3 separate regions of the Homo sapiens genome follow, and regions 2 and 3 are each linked to region 1. The links come from fine-mapping of genetic effects on gene expression. A gene starts in region 1. Each other region holds a variant in brackets. All regions are shown on one strand. Distances are from middle to middle.

Region 1 (4,244 bases):
AGGGTGAACTTCATTAGGGATTTGAAACAGTTTTAGTTGGTTAGTGGTTCTACTTCAGGTAAGGAATCAAGACAAAAGGGAAATGATTCAAAGAATGAGGGAACTGGGACCCTTTTAAGTTGCAGATGAGGTCATCTGTGTTTGGATCAGAGACCTATAATTTATGTAGATTCACATACATCTTTTTCAGATATGCATACATTGGGGACTGTAGAGTGTTGTGGAACTAAATGTATTTGTATGTGTTCAACACACTGTATAATTGACTCAATTATCCATGTGGAGATTATTCAGATTTAATGTGCAATCTGGTTTCTCCTTTCAGTTAGGTTGTTCTTGGGCTGCTCCAGGAACTCCAACTAATTTAAATAATAATTTAAGTAAAACATAATTAGGAAGGAAAATTAAATTCAATTTTTTGGCAGCTCTTGAATATTCTACTGCTGAAACGTAACTAATCCATCCACTATCTTTTAATTCACCAATGCCTTTTTAGTACCACAGGATTTTACTGCTTTCTATAGATTATTGCAGTAGTTTCCAGGTAGCTCTCCTGCTTACCTCTTTCCATTTCAATCATCATTCTGCTGACAGCAACCTTCAAAAATCCAACTCCCACTGCAAAATTTCTTTGGTTCAAAACATTTAATGGATAGAAAAAACATTTAATGCTTACCCATTTCTCACCAGATTAAGTGCACATGCCACAACCAGTCATTAAAGGCTTTTTCTAGTCTAAATTCCTGTTCTTCAAACGTCAAACCGCCCTTCTACTCTACTGACCTGAAACACACAGCCTCACCCTCCACATCTCTGCAGACCCACCGCATTTGCCACCTGCCCTAGGGAGCTTTTCCTGATCTTACCTCGGATGCCTTTCACTGCTCCCACATCTGAATTCCTTTAACTCACTCCATGTTTTTCTCAAAGGCAGACCAAGGTATTTATGCAAACATGGTGTCTCCCTAGTCTTGGGTGAGGTCTTTGACATCACTCACTGCAGCGATTCATCTCCCCTACTCTGCACTGTCAGACTCTAAAGAAGGGTGCAACAAATACTTGTCCATTTAGACTGCCGGCAAACCCTGAGGGCAGGAATTTTGGCCTTTTGTATCTCCAGTGCCTAGAACAGTGCTTGGTACACAGTAGGCACTCATTCATTGAACGTTGCTGAAGGAATTGAACGTACATACTACAAGCCCTGCAGATGCAGATACAGGAGGGGTTGACGGCACAGTGCTTAGGGTGGAACTGGAGGCACCACCTCTCCTGAGGGGTGATGCGCCGCTTCCTGGGCAGGCTCGGGGGAGCTCGCTCAAATGCCTGCCTCTCTGTAGCCCAAACGCTGGAAAAAAAAATACTCACAAATCACCTATCCAAGTATGTACACACAGGCTCACTTAAACCCGCCCTATTAAAAAAATATACACACGCACACACCATTTATCCAAGTATGTATACACGGGCTTGCTTAAACCTGCCCTATTAAAAATAATAATGTATATATTTATGCACGAACATACACACATATATCTATACAGGTCTGTACATAGACTTGCTTAAACCTGCCCTATTAAATACAGACACACACCCCTATCCAGGTATGTACATACATATATAATATATAAATATAAAGACATATATATGCACAGACTTAACTCCAACACGATTGGAGTGTCGGGAGGGCAACTGGGCTGCCCTCTCCGCCCTCCAGGACTGCGGGACAAGTCTCCCGGCGCCCGGGTCGCAGGAGACCCGGAGCCCTAAAACGGCCCCTGCGCGGCTTGGGCCTTCCGGCTTTCCGTCCGCCGCGGCCGCCATTGGCTGGGTTCGGCGCAGCTAACAGACGGCGGCAGTGCGAGAAAGCCGAAGATGGCGGTCCCCGCGGCGCTGATCCTACGGGAGAGCCCCAGGTAGCTGATCCGTTAAGCTCTTGCGGTAGCCGCGCCCAGGAAGGCCCAGATCGGGCTCGCACAAGGCTGTCCTTGCTGCCTGCCGCCTGGGCGCCGCGGCGGGCCCGGTTGAGTGGGGTGGGGTGGGGTGGGCTGCCGAGGTTGCGACGCTGCGTCTGCGGAGTGCGTGGGGCCGTGTAGCGCCTCTACAGTCACGGTGGTCCACCTGTGGGGCTCACAGTGCGCCTGGCAGCTGAGGTCTGTACGGAAGCGTGTGGTCTGCAAGCGTGGGGTCTGCGTCACTGTTCGCGGAGTTTGGTATCAGAAGTTCCCGGGTGCTGCCTTCAGTGCTGCCGAATCACGTGGAACGGTATTCCGTTTCCGATTTCAGTTCCGGTTCAGACACTCTGGTGGGAAAGGCTCACGCTGCTGCTGGAGGGTCTTTAATAGCCAACATGTGTTAATACCCCTTTTAAATCAGTATCGAATAGGGGACCGAATTTTTGGTTGGTAGAAGAATCTAGCCTGGCTTTGGTAGCATTTGCTTTTATTTGCATTTTAAACAGATTTTTAGTTAATTTCTACTTATGGTAGATAAAGTTGGTTGTCCATGGTAGTGATATAAAGCTCCCCTTTAACATTATTTAAGTAAAAAAAGACTCAATTTGTGAAAAAATAAGCAATAGTGCAGGTAGCGTGTGGATACAGAAAAAGTACTGAAGTATATAGGCAAAATAGTGTTCGGAAGTAATTTCTTTGTGCTTGGATTGGGTAGAAATCTTTCAGAAGAAAAGAGTTATTTTAAAGTTTTTCCTTCTTTCTGGATTCCTTTTGTTACCAGTGGAGGGTGTCCAGGTTCTTGGCGTCTTGAACAAAGAACTGGAGAAGACGCACAAAGAAAGCGAGGAAAGAATGAAGAAGACATTTATTGAAAATGAAACTACCCTCCACAGTGTGGGAGCTGCTTGAGCATAGGGGCTGAAGGGCCCCTACAGAATTTTTGGGAATTTAAATACCCTCTAGAGGATTCCATTGGTTACTTGGTGTACTCCCTATGTAAATGAAGAGGATGAAGTAAAGTTACAAAGTCATTTTCTCCGCCTATGCCATATGGAGAGGACATTTCTTGTCATAGCTGAAGTGGGAATCAGCTTTATGTTCCCAGCCTCCTGACCCTATTTTCCTGCCTCACTTTGGTTCTGATCGCCAGTTTCTTTCCTCATACCAGTGTCTTGGGGAACACCGCTACATCAGTAAACTGTATCCAATATGGTGCAGTATAGAATTGTTCTCATCACATCATTTAAAGTTGATTATTACAGGAAAGGTGCTGTGGCTCATGCCTGTAATTCCAGCACTTTGGGAGGCTGAGGCGGGCTAATCTCTCTCTCTTTTTTTTCCCTGAGAGGGCGTTTCCCTCTTGTTGCGCAGGCTGGAGTGCAATGGCGCCATCTCGGCTCACTGCAGCCTCCGCCTCCTGTGTTCAAGCGATTCTCCTCCCTGAGCCTCCTGAGTAGCTGGGATTACAGGCACCCGCCACCACGCCCAGCTAATTTTTTGTATTTTTAGTAAAGATGGGGTTTCACCATGTTGGCTAGGCTGGTCTGGAACTCCTGGCTTCGGGTGATCTGTCCTCCCTGGCCTTGCAAAGTGCTGGGATTATAGGGGTGAGCCACTGCAGGACTGATTGAGCTCAGGAGTTCAAGACCAGCCTGGGCAACAGGGCAAAACTCTGTCTCTACAAAAAATACAAAAATTAGCCAGCGCTGTGGCCCGCGCATGTAGTTCTAGCTACTTGGGAGGCTGAGGCACAAGGATTCTTAGAACCCAGGAGGCAGAGGCTGTAGTGAGCTGAGATCGTGCCACTGCACTCCAGCCTGGGTGACAGAGTAAGACCCTATCTCAAAATTGATTACTGTTGTAATAATAAATTTGATTTTACAGTTGAAACAGGGTTTTAAAATAACTGTGTGCTTAGTGACCCCAGATGATTTTGTACATAGTATTTGAAAAGTTATTTGCCTTGCAGTATTCTTTTATGTTTTTGGTGTAATTGCCATAATTGCTATTCCTCTCCTCCCACCCCTTTCAGAGTTCCATTTTTGGGTTAAGTGTTTATATAAACGCTCTACTAAATTAAGGCTCTTCCCTGCGCAGTACAAGGTTTCCCTAGTAGTTTGGTTTGCCCAAAAGAAAGAGAAAATTTGCCAAATGGACCTTTTCAGCAGAAGTAATTTTGGGGGCATCTTTTTGGAAATGTACCCGTTGCCCTGCCTTTTTTGCTGGCTGTCATCTGTTTTTATTTCACTCAGATTTACCATATAGCATTCAGAGTTGTTGGAATGAAAACTT
Region 2 (4,244 bases), 220 kb after region 1:
ATCAGTTACTCTGACTCCCAAAGAAGACCTGCTTGACACTTCTAACTCTCCATTCTAAATGAGCAAAAATTTCATCTCCCTGAAAGCAGAGGGAAGACATTGCTGGGTCAGTTTCAAAGGCTCATTGGTTACCTTCCTGCCACAATAGACCATTGAGAGTCTCTGCTCCCCGTTCCTGGCATGGTGGAAACTGACCTTACACTCACCTTCCTCTATGTACTTCTGAGTGAGAACTTGAACTTCAACATCCCCCTCTAGCTCCCTAGGAAAGTGAAGAGGTATGGAATATGCCCTCAGTAGCCTGGCTTGATTCTATCTTTTGGCTGTTTGCTGCATTTGTAGAAGGAAAAGAACAATAGAAAACATTGCTTCTCTCTTTGCAGACTAAGCATTTACAGTGGAACATAGCTAAGTAGGAAACCAAGAAAAAGAGAGGATGAGATGTTAACTGACGAATCAAGTTACTCTTGTGTGCTCCAGTAACAGATGTCCAAGAGGCTTCAGGCCTACCTTTGTGCCTCCTTTTTTAAACGTATTTGATCATCTGCAAGTTGGACTGATTTACATCATATGAAACCCATGAGATGTGCTTGAGGCAGGAGAATGAATGAATTAAAGGCTTTTTCCGTATGTTATTTTCACCCTGAAGTAGTTAACCTATCCCAGTGTGTATCAAAAGCAGAAGAAACTGATTCTGCAATGCCAAGTTGTTTCTGCCTTGGACCATTTACCATACCTGAATCTTATGTGTCTTTTTTTTTTTTTTTTTTTTTTTTTTTGCTGAACCTCATCCACAAAATGTGTTATAGGCAGTACAAAAAAAATTATTTAAATTAAATTAGTGATAGTTAGCTTTAAAAAACATGCAACATTTCAGTTCCCTGCAAGGGGCTCTGAAATGTCCAATGATATGTTTCAGAGCCATTAAGCTTGTTTGCCTCTTTCTGCTTCTCCTTCCTGACCACTGTTGTGGGGGCAGAGAGCCAGATGTCAGGAGGTTCCTTTCCCAAACCAGTTAGCATGTCCTCATATTTTGCCCTCTTCAGCCACAGCTTGTTCTCGGCTCTCTCCCTGCATGAATCAACAGCAGTCCCAGGACAGGCAGAGACCATCAGGAGCTTAACCTTCACACAGAGAGAGACTCCAGATCTCAGAGAGCAGTGCTCAAGATTCCAAGACAGAACCCTGGGATTTTCTACTGTGAGTTTCATGCTGCAAATACACAAATCAACAGTTATTTTGTATGTATACTCAGGTTTCTTCATTTATTTGAAAAGGTGGAGGAAGGAATGGAGAAAAATGGACAGAGGTAGGAGTGTGTGGGGGTGTGTGTGTGTGCATGCATGCACGTGTGTGTGTGTGAAAAGGCATTATATTTAAAGAACAATGGTTTTTGATAGCCTTATAATTACTATATTCTAATAGGATGCTGAGCACGGCCTTGGCCGGTTAACTCTATTTGCTTAGTCATTCGTTCATTTACACATGTATTTACCCATTAACTAATAGGCCAGTCAAATGAGGTTACTTCTGGAGTGCTGTAGTTCTGTTTGCATATCAGGATCTACAATAAAAGCATTGCCTTAGGTCCTCAGGTAGAGGTTGATCAGGGGCAGAAAGGCTTTTCCTGCTGACTCCACCAGCAGCATTCTGGTAAGATGAAAAATGGAGAATGATTAGT[G/A]TGGGCCACCCTTGAGAGACTATGGTTAGTCATAATTGAGTAGACACAGCAATACCTTCACGAGACTATCCATCAAGAAATAAGTTTTTTAAACTGTAGTTCTAGTAAGAAAGACAAACCTATTTATTTTGTTTAAGTAAGTGTGCTTGGTGCCAGGGATTCGAAATAAGATAGGGGCTCATCTCTTTGGCCTTAATTCTAGGCTAAACATTACTCAGCTTGATGGTAAGTGTAAAACTGAATACAACTACTACAGCAATGACCCACTGGAAATGTGTAGCACTTTACAGTTTATAGAAATCCTTTTATATGCTTGTTCTCGTTTGATCCTTGCATTATTCTTTAGTTAATTGAACAAGTGTTATTTCCATTTTCTAAATGAACAAACTAAAACGAAGACACCTAAATCACTTGCCTAAGATTACACAGCTGAACTCAGACTAGAACTCAGAATGTCTAATCCCTAGTTTAAGGCTCTTTTAATACTTCACTGTGCCAATTATCAATTTTTGTCCCTCCAAATTTTCCCTTGAGTTCTCTCTCTGCCGTTAATGTTTGGAATCCCTTTAAGCTGTCCTCCTTTATGTGAGCACCATATTAAGCTTTCTAAGTAGAGGGTGCTGGAGGGATATTGCAGGAGGAAGGGACTTCTCTTGTAGGCTCCAGCAGCTGCACTGTTGGTCACTGGTATGAGTGTGAGTGCATCTGGTGGTACTGTGCCCCAGCCAGAGCACACAGTCCCTTGGTAAGCTTGCAGCCCTGACCTATCCTAGTGATCACCTTCTCATAGCCCTCCCAACACAGACACTAGAAATTCTAGCCCTCTTGCCCCTCTGCATGCCCACTCACCTGCCTCACCAGTTGTGACTCACTTGTACCCTGCCACTCAGATTTGCCCTCCTGACATGGACACTAGGAGTGCCAAGCCTTCTACCCAACAGTGATAGTCCCAAAGTATCTGTGCATACCCAATCTGGCTGTGGCTCATGTACTTCCTAGAGAGTAGCTTTCTTCTTACTCAGTGACTGTTAACCAGCTCTGGCATGAGCAAGCCAGCAAACCTCTCTTCCATCCATTGAAGTGCAACTAGACCTTCTGCAACCAGATAAGAACCTGAGCCTTGAGGAAAGATCCCCTTCCATCCTTCCTTGAGCACTCTCCCTCAGCCCTGTGGAACATTATAAAGTTCTCTTACATCTTATAGTTACTGTTTTCTTATAGCTTAATCTTTTTTTTTGAGACAGGTTGTCACTCTGTTGCCCAGGCTAGAGTGCAGTGGCGTGATCTTGGCTCACTGCAGCTTCTGCCTCCCAGGTTCAAGTGATTCTCCTGCCTCAGCCTCCCAAGTAGTTGGGATTACAGGTGTGTGCCACTGTGCCCAGCTAATTTTTGTATTTTTAGTAGAGACGGGTTTCACCATGTTGGCTAGGCTGGTTTTGAACTCCTGACCTCAGGTGATCTGTCTGCCTTGGCCTCCCAGAACGCTGGGATTACAGGTGTGAGCCACCGTGCATAGCCAGCTTAATCATTCTTTATATTAAGCTTCCCTTATTTAAATCACTGTTTGGTTCCTGTCTCCTGATTGGACCCCAGTTGATGCACTCACTAAATGTTGGTGTGAAGTCACAGACAAGGTAAAGTTTCCTATGGGTAGGACTTTATCATATATCTCACATCACTACAAGCACCTGCCTATTTTAATGCCTGACACACAAAAAGTCTTGAATAAGTTCTGATTAATTGAGCACAATTTAAGTTAATTTTAACACCCCTATTTGTTGAGATGTAATAACAGCCTACTGAGAGGTCCAGCATGCTGAGAGGAAAGAGTCAAAAATTTGTTCATGTATGTGATCACTTATTTGTTCAGTAATGTTGATCAATAATGTTGACTGGGATAAGCAGCACTGGCTCCAACTGCAGGTCAAACAGCAGAATTGGCCCCAACTGGGAGGCGGAGTGAATCATTGCTGTTAGAGGACAAGCAAAGGGAACATTCAGAAGGAAAGAATGAAAACAACACAGAAAGACCCAGAAAGAACCAGGGAAATACAGAGTACTCTAATCACTTCTGAGGCTCAGAGGGGACAAATGACCTGTCCCATGTCATGTAGCCCTCTTCTTGGCAGAGCCAAGAGTAGAGAGCAGATTCTATAATCCTCAGTCTAAACTCTTGACATTACATATTGCATTGCTTCTCCAAGTGGGGCAGGAAGGGGTGGTAATGCAAACTGCCATTTCGGGAAGTGGTTAAAAAAAATACCTTAAAATGTGGTTATCCTTTACCTAGTAGTTCTAAAGGAGTCCATGTTTGGGATCCAAGAAATTCCCCTGCCAATGCTATTACCTTTTGGAAAACAGCTAGCAGTCTGTCAAATATGCTAGATTTGGGGTTTGACGCCCCTCAAGGTAATCAGTGACCTGTTAAACCACAGTATCTCAAGCCTTGTAGGCAAAGCAAAATGTTACCTGTCCTACCCCTGCTCAAAGTATCCATCATTTCTCTAATGTAGTCTCACACCCATATGTAAAGCCTCTCTAGCACTCCTTTCCAAAATCTGTA
Region 3 (4,244 bases), 210 kb after region 1:
GACCTTCACTAATACCCCAGCTGGGAGTTCTAGGGCCTCTCAAATGTTTTCTGATATTTTGCTCCCTCTGGCACCTGCCCGTGGAACTGCAGCTCTAATATGCCTCTCACCTCTGTTTTCAGTGCCTTCCAAACGCTGGTGCTGGGCGTGTGAGTGCCCTTCTTTAATTAATACAGAAACCAGTTCCTTGGGAATCCCCCAGAAAGCCAGAATGTTGGATGTATGGTTCATTCTTTTATTTCTGTCCTGAGGGAGGAGCTCTGGCATGGGGGGTGGTGGGTTCTTCTTGGTTGCTCCGCTATTCCACATGGGAGAGAGGCATGCATGAATACACTGAACACTGTGAAATTCATTTCCTACCACTTTCATTGGAATTCCTTCTTGGTTTTATAATGGTGTGGGTGCTGTAGCATCTCAACTGGTCTCTCAAGTTCTCACAAGGGTATTCTGATCCGTATATTGTTAACTTGGTACCTTAGTGGTGGAAAGAGGGCCTCTAGCTTTCTAGTCTACCCCTATAGCTATTGTTCTTTTAAGAAGTATGTTTTCGAAGTTACATTTCTTCTCTTTCCTCAATGTAACATTTTAGGAAACACCACCTTAAAACAAAGCAAAGCAAAATATAGAAAACAAGAACCTGGCTTGACTGCCACCTTTAGGGGTACATCAGATCAGTTGTTTACGTGCTGATTCAGCCTTCATTCTCTCCTATCTTTTTGGATGGAGGTGAGAGTGATGAACTTGTCTTGCTTTTCTCAGAACTTTAGGGTAAACCTAGGCTTATCATCCTTCCTTAACTGCTAGGAGGGCATATACTATGTATAGATGATGCTGATTAAATCTTTGGAGCTTTAATGATGTGTGACAGCCAATGAATTTTTCTAATATAGTATAAAAACTTCATGATTTTATATCATTCTTAAAGGAAGAGGCTTTAAAGCAGATGTACTTCTTTTTTCATTTTAAAGCTTAAGTACTTAGATATATGAGAGAAAATGAAGAAGTATGGAAATTTGATCCTGTACACTTAGCTTCATGAAGAGTGAGATGCATTTTCTGAACATAGCCCCATTGACTCTTCTGGAATTAGTTGGAGATAATTTGGTTTGAAATGTCGGCTTTGTAAATAGAAATGGAAATCATTAAAACAGATAAAAGTGAACATAGAAACTGCGAACTAGAATAAACAGTATGTTGGAAATGACCATGTGGCTCAATTTTGCATCAGTTTTCTACTTCTTTAGTTCATGATGCCCATTTTATGTCATGTGATTACAGCAGTGTGATCAGAGCAGTTAGCATATTCTTGGCATTTTCTCCTCATTAACTTTCACTTCTTCAGAGGGACCTTGAGTAAAATAAACACATTTGAGCAGTCTTAAGCAAATTGTTTGAATTGTTTCCTCAGTATACAGAATCAACCAAAAGTAGGTTGGATTGAGTTGAGTTGGGTTTAGTTTAATATCATACTTTACTACAGCATCATACATACATATACAATATTACCTAGCATCTGTAGCACCCATAAAGGATTCTCTAATGCATGTGAAGTAAAAGGAAAGAGAGTGTTTAAGTCCTGACTTTGAAACTGTTGTGTTAATTGTGAACTTTTGCTGAGTCTATACATTGAAGAAGGTAACACTCAGCATGTTGAGATCACAACTGCTAGATTAGTGCTTGGAGGCAGTAGCTGTGCTGATGTGAGGCATTAATGGCTGGGTGAGTTCAATCAGATATCCTGCCTCCAGTGTCTTTGTGTAATGGTATTTACTAGATTTCAAACAGACTGCTGAGAAAGATGAAATATAATCTCATGTATTATCTCTGTCTTGAAAAAATTAGATAATAAAGTTGTTCTCTTACTGGCATATGTTTTATTAACCTTCGTAGAGTCAACTTAAAGGACAGATGTCTGTAGAATTGAAACCTTTTGCTAGAGTGTTATTAAGTGCATTTTTGAGTTCTAGGAATCATGGGGTTGAGTAGAGCAGGTAAGCATTTTTTAAAACCACTCAGAGGACAATCTTATGTCATATTCTGAGGTTAGCTGGAGAGAAAAAATGTGATGTAAATTGTGTGCAACTACATTCTTTTTGTTGTTTTTCTTCCTTACAGAGCCTGGAGAAAGTTCTTGTGGAATTCAGTCACAAGGAGTTGTTTGATTTCTATAACAAGGTCTGTATTTTTAAAATAATTTTCTAATATGTGGAGTTTTTTTCATAATATTTTGTTTCATTTTATGAATTCTTATTTTTAAATGTCATATTATGGAACTAAGTTCTTTAAACTTCCCTTATAAAAGACCTTATGTTTCACAGGAGGAAGTATAGCAGAAATGAAGAGAATTTGAAAAACTAAATCAGGAAGAAAAGGAAAATAGTTTTAATTAAAGCAATAGGATTGTTGCTTTAATATAAAACATTAAGTAATGAACTTTGTGATTCCTAGCCACACTGACACTTTAAATATAT[A/G]TAATGTCAAATACTTTAATTTCTGGGCCCAAGGGTAAAGGGAAACATGCCTTTAGAGATTTATCTGTGAGTATATTTCATGTCTCTTTCTGAAGACTGATTTTGTAATCCAGGAAAATATACTCCCTCCACCCCCCAACTTTAAAATATTATCAAGTAGGCAGTTCTTCTGCCAGTGTACTGCCACTGGAGCATGCGTGTGGTTATCCTGTTCAGCCCACCACCACTGTACCCACTCCCTCATATGTAAGCCTCCAATAAAACCCCATGTCTCATTAAAAAAAAAATTATGGAGTGATAATTTAAAAGGAAACAGCTGAAGACACTTAAAACAACAGTATTAAGAAATCTTCTTTCTTTGAAAATTTGAAAACTTAAATTTTCAAGCACAAATTCTAATATCTTCACCTAAAAAGAAAAATATTCTAAGTGGTAATTTTATTGCTATGTGAATGGATTTAATATTCATAGTTACCAGTGCTATTTTTTCCTTTCTATTTGCATGTGTCTGAATAACACTTGATATGAGTTTCGTTCCCTTCACTAACGTCTTTTTTTTTTTTTGTCTTTGTAAATAGCTAGAGACTATACAAGCACAGCTGGATTCCCTTACATGATGTTTTCGAAGACTGTTTTTTTCATCACGCTCCTGCCACCTCATTATTTTGCATTGAAGATACATTGCCAGGTTGTGTTTTCTGAAGGATTCAGTGACTTGCTTTCTGTAAATTATATGGCTTATCACTTCTTAGACAAATAACAACCAATAGAGATCATTGTTAAGAATACTGAGGTTCTAATATACTTTCTTTAGTTCTGTGAGCCAACAGTAATTATTAAGAACACTTTCCCTTTAAAGGAAACAAAAGTGAATACCATATTGTTTTTACTGTCATAGTGTTGCTTTCTTGCCTGTCCTGCTTAGTTTTTACTTGCTGGATGATACCATAATGTATCAAGGAGCGTCCATGGATACAAGATAAGATGTGTACCTTAGTAGAATACAGAGCTTTGGTAATTACATGAATAAAATTAAGAAAATAGCCATATACAATCAAATACACTATGGCATTTTTATTTGAATATGATGAGTATATTTTGCTTCGGAAATAATATAGGAAGGAAATGTAAAATAGTGAGTAGTATGGTATCAGTTAATTCCAGTCTGAGCTTCTCTGTCAACTTCAGTTTCTCTCTCAGTTTAATGATTTAATAATAGTCCAGGTTTTTGTGTGTTTTTCTTTATACTGCAAATTAATAATGATTCACTTTATAGTTTGGGAGACAGAATCAGGTCTTGAATAAAATAATTGTAATGAGTGCTAAATGGGCACCATTATTCGAATCAGATACCTTTTATATTCTCTTTCCATAAATACGTTGATTTCTGTCAATAAAATTTTTGTGTCTTAGGATTGGTTGAAGTGTACATTTTTTAATTATATACATTATAGTATATTTTATGCCATGAATGTATGTAAATGAATACATTTACGTACATTTGTTAAAATGTATGTAATGAATACATTTACATACATTTGTTTAAAAAAAACTTGAATTTTTTATGAATGAAATTTCTGTATTGTTTCCAAAAAGAGAGAGATTCAAACATGACTTGCTTCACATGAAGAAATTTGATTTCAGAAATGTCCTATATTTAAATAAGCAAAGCCATTGAAATTGAAGCACATTTCTTATTTGAAGCATCTGGGAAATACAACTGTTAAGTATCTCTCAAATATTCAGTATATGGAATTTATACCCACATTTGTT

Which allele goes with the higher level. Positions count from the first base shown, and alleles are read on the strand shown. Sizes are in standard deviations (SD) of each study's normalised expression. Not every link is listed here.
In carriers of allele A in region 2, the expression in lymphoblastoid cells of the gene that starts at base 1,845 in region 1 tends to be higher than with G alone (large effect, 0.76 SD a copy in GTEx).

What was found. PIP is the estimated chance that this variant, and not a neighbour inherited with it, causes the effect. A credible set is the group of variants that fine-mapping cannot tell apart.
Region 2: its variant is the best candidate, but not a certain one, in a credible set for the expression of COMMD10 in lymphoblastoid cells (GTEx, PIP 0.66).
Region 3: its variant is the best candidate, but not a certain one, in a credible set for the expression of COMMD10 in whole blood (INTERVAL, PIP 0.54).

The regions. Positions count from the first base shown.
Region 1 is chr5:116,083,181-116,087,424 of GRCh38, forward strand. It overlaps COMMD10 (COMM domain containing 10), which reads left to right and starts at 1,845. Exons shown (of 7, transcript NM_016144.4): 1 at 1,845-1,913. The coding sequence starts at 1,873. RefSeq lists enhancers at 1,639-1,798, 2,092-2,386.
Region 2 is chr5:116,302,484-116,306,727 of GRCh38, forward strand. No RefSeq gene overlaps it. Among named protein-coding and RNA genes, the nearest start is that of MIR12130, 49 kb to the left of the region's middle. The variant G/A (reference allele first, on the strand shown) is at 1,682.
Region 3 is chr5:116,289,402-116,293,645 of GRCh38, forward strand. It overlaps COMMD10 (COMM domain containing 10), which reads left to right. Exons shown (of 7, transcript NM_016144.4): 6 at 2,116-2,175; 7 at 3,050-3,886. The coding sequence ends at 3,088. Among named protein-coding and RNA genes, the nearest start is that of MIR12130, 36 kb to the left of the region's middle. The variant A/G (reference allele first, on the strand shown) is at 2,472.